Regions from separate parts of the Homo sapiens genome. Here region 1 is linked to region 2. Evidence: fine-mapped expression QTL. A gene starts in region 2. The other region holds a variant in brackets. All regions are shown on one strand. Distances are between the middles of the regions. Region 1 has its middle 41 kb from the start of MCM5. Region 2 holds the start of MCM5 (minichromosome maintenance complex component 5).

Region 1 (4,389 bases), 41 kb before region 2:
AAAAGCAAAAGCCATCTCCATGGCTGCCCAGAGGAGGATGCAGTTTCCAGAGCTGTGAAGGGGGACCCAAAGGCCAGGGCAGGAGCTAGGACCCCGTGAGAAGGGGGCCAAGGACACGTACCCTCACTTTATCCTCCTGCCACTGTCCAATCTCCAATGTTTCCATGGCAAACCCAATGGGAAACAAACAGAGCCCACTGATGCCTCCTGTCAGGGGCAGAGTAGTGGCCTGGAAAGATGTTCATGGACAAATCCCTGAAACCTGTGAACACGGCGCCTTCCATGGCAAAGGTGCAGATGAGATCAAATTAAGATGGGGAGATTATTTGGGGATTATCAGGATGAGCCCAATGTAATCACAGTCATTAAAGAAGGAGGCAGGAGGCAGAGCCAGAGAAAGGAGAGATGGTGACAGGTCCAGAGGGTGGGAGGGAATCGGAGGGTGCTGGCTTTGAAGACGGGCTTAGAGGCCCCGAGCTAAGCAATGTGGCAGCCTCTGGAAGCTGGCAAAGGCGAGGAAACTGATTCTCCCCAGAGCTTCCAGGAAGAACCAGCCCTGCCTGCACTTTCATACTTTGACTGTAGCCCGGTGAGGCTGATTTTGAACTTCTGACCTCCAGAACCGTAAGAGAATAGAAACATAAGAGAATAAATGTGTGCTATTTTAAGCCACTGAGTTTGTGATGTTTTTTTTTTTTTCTTTTTTAGTAGCCACACTTCTCCATCCATGGATGTCGGCCCCCTAGGCCGAAGAGCAGAGAGAGAAGCGCAGACGGAGGAACCCACCACGCAAGCAGGCAGGCAGCAAGTGAGTGGTGTGTCTGGGGGTGGTGGGCCTTCCGCTGGCACTGGAGTATAATATACACGGGTGGCATGGGGTGTCAGGTGGGGCCAGGGGGTGAAGGACAGGACAGCCGGGAAACAACGCCAAGCAGGGGAGCGTGGACTTTCTCCTTGGGCAATGGGGAGCCACGGGAGTTTCCTGAGCAGGGAGTAGCTCGATCAGATTTAGATTCGACCAGATTGGTGAGGAGCTGAAAGGGAACAGGGGAGACTGGAAGGACAGAGGGAGGGACCCGTGGGATGCTGTTGCAACACGCAGGCTGGCCAATGGGAAGGGGCCTCTGAACCGGATCAAGAGGCCCGGCTTGTGGCTTTGGATCTCCTTTAGGCAGTTCTAGCCATGCCAACTCGTCCTGGCCTCACCTTCACACCCATGCCACATTCCACCTCTAGGCCTTTTGTGCTTTTTCCTTCCCTGGCCTGGGACACCCTTGCTGCTCCTCTCCATCGATCCTTCCCAGCCTTCAAGGTTCAGCTGAAGGGCACCTCTTCCAGGGAGCCTTCCCTGATAAGCCACTGAAGCCACAGGGCCTCAGGAATCACCTTGCCCAGTCCTCCTCTGCCCTTCCATCCCTCACCTCTGCCCATATACCCCCACTGCCAGGACACCCACTGCCTGGGTTCCAATCCCACTCACTCCACTTCCCAATATGTGACTTAGCCTGTGCCTGTTTCCACACCTGTAAAATAAGCACAAGGGAATCACCTACTCTATGGGGCTGTGTGAGGGATAATAGGTACTGACATAGAAGAGTACTCAGCACAGCGCCTGTAGAGGTGGTGGGGGGGCACCCAGAGAGCCTGCAAGCATCTGCTGTTCTGGTCCCCAAACCAAGAGCCCATGAGTGCGAGATTGTCCTCCCTGAGCTGAGCCCACCCTTAGCTCACTCCTCCCTCTGGCCCCAGCCCTGCCCCTAGGGCCACCAGCACACATCTAATCCATCTTCCATATAGCATCCTGTAACTCTGATGGAGACAGTGGTCATGTCCCCTGGGCTTTGCAGCCCAGTCCCTTCTCCAGCCTCTCCCAGAGGAAGCTTTCCAGACTCTTCTGCACAAACCCCTTTCCCCGCACATTCCTGCGCAGGGCCCACCTTGGACGCAAGGTCCCTTCACCATACGGTCACTGGGATCTTACTTTTTTTTTTTTTTTTTTTTGACAGAGTTTCACTCTTATTGCCCAGGCTGTAGTGCAATGGTGTGATCTCAGCTCACCGCAACCTCCGCCTCCCGGGTTCAAGCGATTCTCCTGCCTCAGACTCCCGAGTAGCTGGGACTACAGGCATGCGCCACCACACCCGGCTAATTTTGTTTTTTTAGTAAAGACGGGGTTTCTCCATGTTGGTCAGGTTGGTCTTGAACTCCTGACCTCAGGTGATTGGCCCTCCTTGGCCTCACAAAGTGCTGGGATTACAAGTGCGAGCCACCACACCCAGGCAGGATCTTACTTTTTACTGGACTCTGGGGACACTGAGGCAAAGAAGA[T/C]GCATGCCTGCCTCCAGACCAGCCCCTGCCTTCCTCGGATCCTCTGGAAGCACAAGTTCCACTCTGGCCAACTGGGCCAGGATTAGGGTCAAATGGAGTTTGCATTGCTGCAGTAGAATGCTATACTGTTCTTCCTTATATCCTGTCCTTGAATGGGTTTTCTGGCCTGAATTTATGGCCCCAAGATGACTGTAAGGACATGGAAGGCAGGGTCCGTACCTCCTCCCCTCTCAACCCCTGTAGCACCTGGCATACCTAAGATATTCCAGGCAGTTCAGGGGTCACATACTCCCTAGAACCCCAGAGCCTCAAGGGGCTTCAGGGATCAGCCAGTTCAATGCTCCCATTTCAGAGATGGGTGACCTGAGGTCCAGAGAAATAACGTGGCTGGCCCAAGGCCATTTCCAACATCACTTCCTAAGGGACCTTCTGCATGCTTCCACAGCCCCAGGGGGGCCTACTGATCTGACGCAGGCTTCTTTCTCTAAGCCAAGTCCCTGTTTCTCATTATTTTTTTCACTAACATCCTTTATCACAGGGCCTACTCAAGGGTTCTTTTAAAGTCTAAGTATCATGAGATGATGTTAGGGGAAGTGCTAGGACCCCAGACTCCGCCTACAATTGATTACAAGTGTGTAAAAATGATGTCTCCATGTGAATTTGGACGAGAGAAATGGAAAATTGACAGTAGGCAACTTAAGGAAACTGCTGGGATTCTAGATGATTTTTTTTATTTCTTCCTTTCTTTTCAGGTTCACTTTCACGTTCTTCTCAGGTTCATTTCTATGTTCTGCAATCAATGTATAAGGAAGGTGGGTGCAGCCAACACTGCGTGTGCCCACTCTGCTTTGGGCACCATGCCAGGCCTGCACACTATTTGGTTGCATCTCTACAACAGTCTTGCAAAGTATTAGCATTCCCACTTTTCAGATGGGGAAAATGGGGTTCAGAGATGTTTAGAAAAATTAAATGCCCAACTTCACAGAGTTAGTAAGTGATAGAGGAAGCATTAGAACATAAGACTTCCAATTCCAAGTTTAGTGTTCTTCCCTAAAAGACAGAGTGGGGGTGGAAGGAGTGTTCTTCCCTAAAAGGCAGGGAGGGAGGAAAGGAGGGAAGAAGATAACCTAAGTATGTTACATTAACTAGTTTGTCCCTGCTACACATTGTGTTCAGTATTTGTTGGATGGATGGATGGACATGTGGGTGGATGAATGGATGAATATGTGGGCGGGTGGATGGATGGATGAATATGTGGGTGAGTGGATGGATGGGTGAATGGATTAATATGTGGGTGGATGGATGAATGAATATGTGGGTGGGTGGGTGGGTGGGTGGATGTATGGATAGATGGATGAATATGTGGGTGAATGGATGGATGAATGAATATGTGGGTAGATGGATGGATGGGTGGGTGGTTGGATGGATGAATATGCAGGTAGATGGATGGATGGATGATTGGATGGATAAATATGTGGGTGGGTGGATGGATGGATGAATATTTGGATGGATGGATGAATGGATGGATGAATTTGTGGGTGGATGGGCGGGTGAGTGGATGGATGAATGGATGGATGGATGAATATGTGAGTGGATGGATGGATGGATATGTGGGTGGATGGGTGAATGGATGAATATGTGGATGGATGGATGGATGGATGGATGAATATGTGGGTGGGTGGACGGATGAATGGATGGATGAATATGTGGATGGATGGATGGATGGATGGATGAATATGTGGGTAGATGGATGGATGAATATGTGGGTGGGTGGATGCATGGATGGATGAATGGATGGATGGATGGATGAATATGTGAGTGGATGGATGGATATGTAGATGGATGGATGGATGGATGGATGGATGGATGGATATGTGGGTGGATGGGTGAATGGATGAATATGTGGATGGACGGATGGATGGATGGATGGATGGATGGATGGATGAATATGTGGGTGGGTAGATGGATGAATGGATGGGTGAATGGATGAATATGTGGATGGATGGATGGATGGATGGATGAATATGTGGGTGGGTGGATGGATGGATGGATGGGTGAATA
Region 2 (4,389 bases):
ATCAGCCTCCCAAAGCGTCGGAATTACAAGCATGAGCCACTGCGTCCAGCCCAGATGCTTAGCAGAGCATCCCATGTGACTGCTGTGGCAAGAACATATTTGGGGACCACTGACCAACGCACAGGCTGTTCCCCAGCCTCGCAGTATCACAGGCCTGAGCCCCGTCTCCCTTATGTCCAGGAGCCAGTAAAATGGCCAGACTGCTACTGAAAGCCACTTGCTGTGAGGACACCCCACACCTCTACACAAGCAATTGCTCCTACCTAGACAGAAAGCTTTCTACACCTGCAACTCTGACCTTAGCTCAAAGGTCCCCTCAAACTTCAGCCCCCCGGAAAACTTCCCTAAGTCCTTTCACCTTCCTCTGTGGAGGAAATGACCACCGTGGAAGTTATCTGTTGGTCTTCACGACTCACTCCTCTGACTTAGGAGCTTCTCTAGGACAAGAAGCACGTCTTTTCATCTTTGTAGCGCAGTGCCTGGCACACAGGTGGGCAATATCAGCTGCTGCATGAGTAAGTGAAAGCAGGAATGGCTTTACCCATTTCTGGCCTGGTGAGGCCCAGAGACACTGACACCTGGAAGTCACTCAGCTAATAATGGGCCAGTGCTGAACCTGCAACCTCATGTTCTCTGCATTTTAACATTTCAGGGATAGAGGCCGGGCCTATGAGAATTCTCATGATGTCACAGGTCGTACAATCACCTAGAAGCAGGAGCCAGGTCCAGCTTCAGTGCTGCAGCCCAGCACCCAGAACAGTATCTGGCAGGCAGCAGGTGCTCAATCAATGAAGGTGCAAGACTGGTATAAATAAATGAATGAGCGAAGTGAAGTGAATCCTAACTGCCATCTTCACCTTTTACACCTACAGGGAACTTGAGTTTGTAAGGTCTCAGACATGACATGGAAGGATGATAGGAAGCAGATGAACAGGAACAAGATCTGGATAAAGAACTAAACGGTCCAAGTGGCGCTAGCTGGTTGCTGGTGGCCCACTCAACAGGTGACTCACCCAGAAGTTAACTCCAGGTACAGATAAAATACACAAAGCAGGCCGGGCACGGTGGCTCACGCCTGTAATCCCAGCACTTTGGGAGACTGAGGCGGGTGGATCACTTGAGGTCAGGAGTTCGAGAGCAGCCTGGCGAACATGGCGAAACCCCATCTCTACTAAAATTACAAAAAATTATCCGGGCGTGGTGATGGCGGGGGTAGTCCCACCTACTCGGGAGGCTGAGGCACAAGAATCGCTTGAACCCGGGAAGCGGAGGTTGCAGTGAGCCGAGATCGTGCCACTGCACTCCAGCCTGGCGACAGAGCGAGACTCCGTCTCAAAATAATAAACAAATACGTTAATAATAAAATAAAATAAAATAAAGTAAAACAAAATACACAAAGCCTTATACCAAGGCGTGAGGCTGCCGGGATGAGCCCTGTGACCCAGGACCGGCTCTTTCCCCCGTCTGGGCCCATCTGTGCCCTGACTGTCCAGGACTCTAGCAGGCTGGTAGAGGCGTGTGAGCGGCCACACTGGAACTCGAGCCCCCGGCCCCGCAGGAGCCGCACCTGTATTTGAAGGTGAAGCCCGTGCGGTCGGTGCCCACTCGGTACTGCCGCAGGAACTCCTTGAAGCGCCTCTGCAGCTGCGATTTGCGGGCCTGCCCCTCGTCGGCCTGGGCGTCGCCCCCGAAGCTGTCGCTGTAGAAAATGCCAGGATCGTCGAATCCCGACATGACTGCGCCTGGGGTGGGAACAAACGGCCAGAACAGGCTGGGGGCAGCGCCTGGCACCTCCTCCCCTCCGACGCCTGGGTCCCTGCCCTGAGTCCGGAGCAGGGGGACCCCCGGCCGCGCTCCCGGACTCCAACCCCAGTTCCCGAGAAACTCCTGTCCCACTCCAACTACACCCGGAAATCCAGATGCCTGCTGGCTCCCAGTCCCAGTCCCACTCCCACTAGCCTCACCTCTGGTTTTCCGCACTTCACAAACCAGGGGAGACAAGAACCTCCACGCTCAGCCGCCGAGTTTCGCGGGAAAAACAAGAGGCGGTGTTCGGACGCCGCAGCCGCTGCGCTCCCATTGGTTCGCCGGAGCCTCGCGGCCAGCGATTGGACCGTTCTGAGCCCTCCAGCCCCGCCGCCCGGACTGTCTGCCGAAGATGATTGGCTGCAAAGTGCATGACCTCGCCTCCTTCCGGGCTCCATTTTGTGTGCGGAACAATTTGGCGCGAAACTTCTGGCTGGGAAGGAAGTGGCGGCGCAGGACGGGGCGGACGCAAAGATGGCGGAGGGGCGGGCGCGCGGAGGACGCCTTTAGGTGGTTTCTTTTTTATTTTCTTGGTTTTTTTTTTTTTTTCCTGACGCATGGTCTCGTTGTGTTGCCGGGGATGGAGTGCAGTGGCTGGATCACGGCTTACTGTAGCCTCAACCTCTTGGGCTCAAGCAATCCTTCCGCCTCAGCCTCCCTTGTAGCGGGGACCACAGGTGTACGTGATTTTCTTAAAATATTTCATAAAGACGGAGTCTCACCATCTTGCCCAGGTCTCGAAACTCTACTCTCAAGCGACCCGCCTGCCTTGACGTCCCAAAGCACTGGGATTACTGGCGTGAGCTACCCGGCCAGGCCTGCGTGCTTTTCTTAAGCCTTCTTTTAAAGTCCTATGAAAAAAAATGACCCTTTTCATAGCCATAGGGAGAAAAAACTAGAAGTTCAGAAATGATTGGGTCCAGGTGCCCATTTTGCATTGGGAGACTGTGCCCTGTGGAGTATTCGCTTCCCGGTCGTGGGGCCCGTTCTCTGGGCCTGAGGCTCTGAGGAGCCCCTGTCCTCCAGCTGGTGGCAGGACAGGGCGATTACCGCGCGGCTCACCCGCGTCCCCGACCCGGGTTCTCGCACCCTAACACACTGCTTTTATTTGTTTATTTATTTGTTGAGAGGGAGTCTCACTCTGTCCCCCAGGATGGAGTGCAGTGGCTCAATCTCGGCTCACTGCAACTTCTGCCTCCCCGGTTCAAGCGATTCTCCTGCCTCAGCCTCCCAACTAGCTGGGACTACAGGCAGGCGCCACCATGCTCAGCTAATTTTTGTATTTTTAGTGGAGACAGGGTTTCACCATGTTGCCCACACTGGTCTCGAACTTCTGGCCTCAAGTGATCCACTCGCTTCGGCCTCCCAAAGTGCTGGAATTACAGGCGTGAGCCACCATGCCCAGACCGGCCTCATTCTGTTTAACAGCTGCTTAATTTTCTGTAGTATGGTGACAAAGACTCTCCTTGACCAAACTCTAGCCAGGTTCCTCTGGGCTCCCTTCACTTCTAAGCCTCAACCTTGATCTATAGGCACTGTGGCTCATGCCTGTAATCCTAGCACTTCAGGAGACCAAGATGAGAGGATCCCTTGAGTCCAGGAGTTGAGGCCAGCCTGGGCAACATAGCAAGATCCCGCTTCTCTAGAAATTTTTTTATAATTTTTTTTGTTTTGAGACAGAGTCTCACTCTGTTGCCCAGGCTGGAGTGCAGTGTCACGATCTCGGCTCACTGCAACTTCCACCTCCTGGGTTCAAGCAATTCTCCTGCCTCAGCTTCCCAAGTAGCTGGAATTACAGGTGTGTGCCACCACGCCTGGCTAATTTTTTGTATTTTTAGTAGAGACAGGGTTTCACCATGTTGGCCAGCCTTGAACTCCTGACCTCAGGTGATCCACCCGCCTGAGCCTTCCAAGATGCTGGGATTACAGGCATGAGCCACTGCGCCCGGCTTGAAATTTTTTTTTAATTAGCTGGGCATGGTGGAGCACACCTGTTGTCCTAGCTACTCAAGAGGCCAAGGTGGGAGGATGGCCTGAGCCCAGGAGTTTGAGACTGCAGTGAGTTTTGATTGCACCACTGCACTTCAGCCTGAGCGACAGAGCGAGACTCATCTCTAAAAAGAAAAAAAAGACAGTCCAGGCGCCGTGGCTCACACCTGTAATCCCAGCATTTTGGGAGGCTGAGGCGGGAGTTCAAGACCAGCCTGGCCAACATGGTGAAACCCTGTGTCTACTAAAAATACAAAACTTAGCCGGGCGTGGTGGCAGGCGCTTGTAATCCCAGCTACTTGGAAGCCTGAGGCAGGAGAATCGCTTGAACCTGGGAGGCGGAGGTTGCAGTGAGCCGAGATCGTGCCACTACACTCCAGTCTGGGCGACAAGAGTGAAACTTAATCTCAAAAAAAAAAAAAAAGAAAAGAAAAAAAGACTTAAACAAACACTAACAGTTTCTAACAGCTGCTAACATCTCTAAAATGACTCTAGCCAGCCCCCGCTAAGGTGCCTGCCTGAGAAAACTCAAGGCTGCTGGTAAATGTTTACCGTTTATTCCAGGCAACAACCGAGGATGTGACCTCTGTCTCC

The links. PIP is the estimated chance that this variant, and not a neighbour inherited with it, causes the effect.
Region 1: its variant is fine-mapped to the expression of MCM5 in whole blood (TOPMed, PIP 0.98).

What each region holds. Positions count from the first base shown.
Region 1 is chr22:35,438,668-35,443,056 of GRCh38, reverse strand. It overlaps a transcript of MCM5 not described here. Among named protein-coding and RNA genes, the nearest start is that of MCM5, 41 kb to the right of the region's middle. The variant T/C (reference allele first, on the strand shown) is at 2,329.
Region 2 is chr22:35,397,784-35,402,172 of GRCh38, reverse strand. MCM5 (minichromosome maintenance complex component 5) reads right to left here and starts at 2,033. Exons shown (of 17, transcript NM_006739.4): 1 at 1,965-2,033; 2 at 1,568-1,742. The coding sequence starts at 1,734. RefSeq lists enhancers at 2,269-2,428, 2,439-2,488.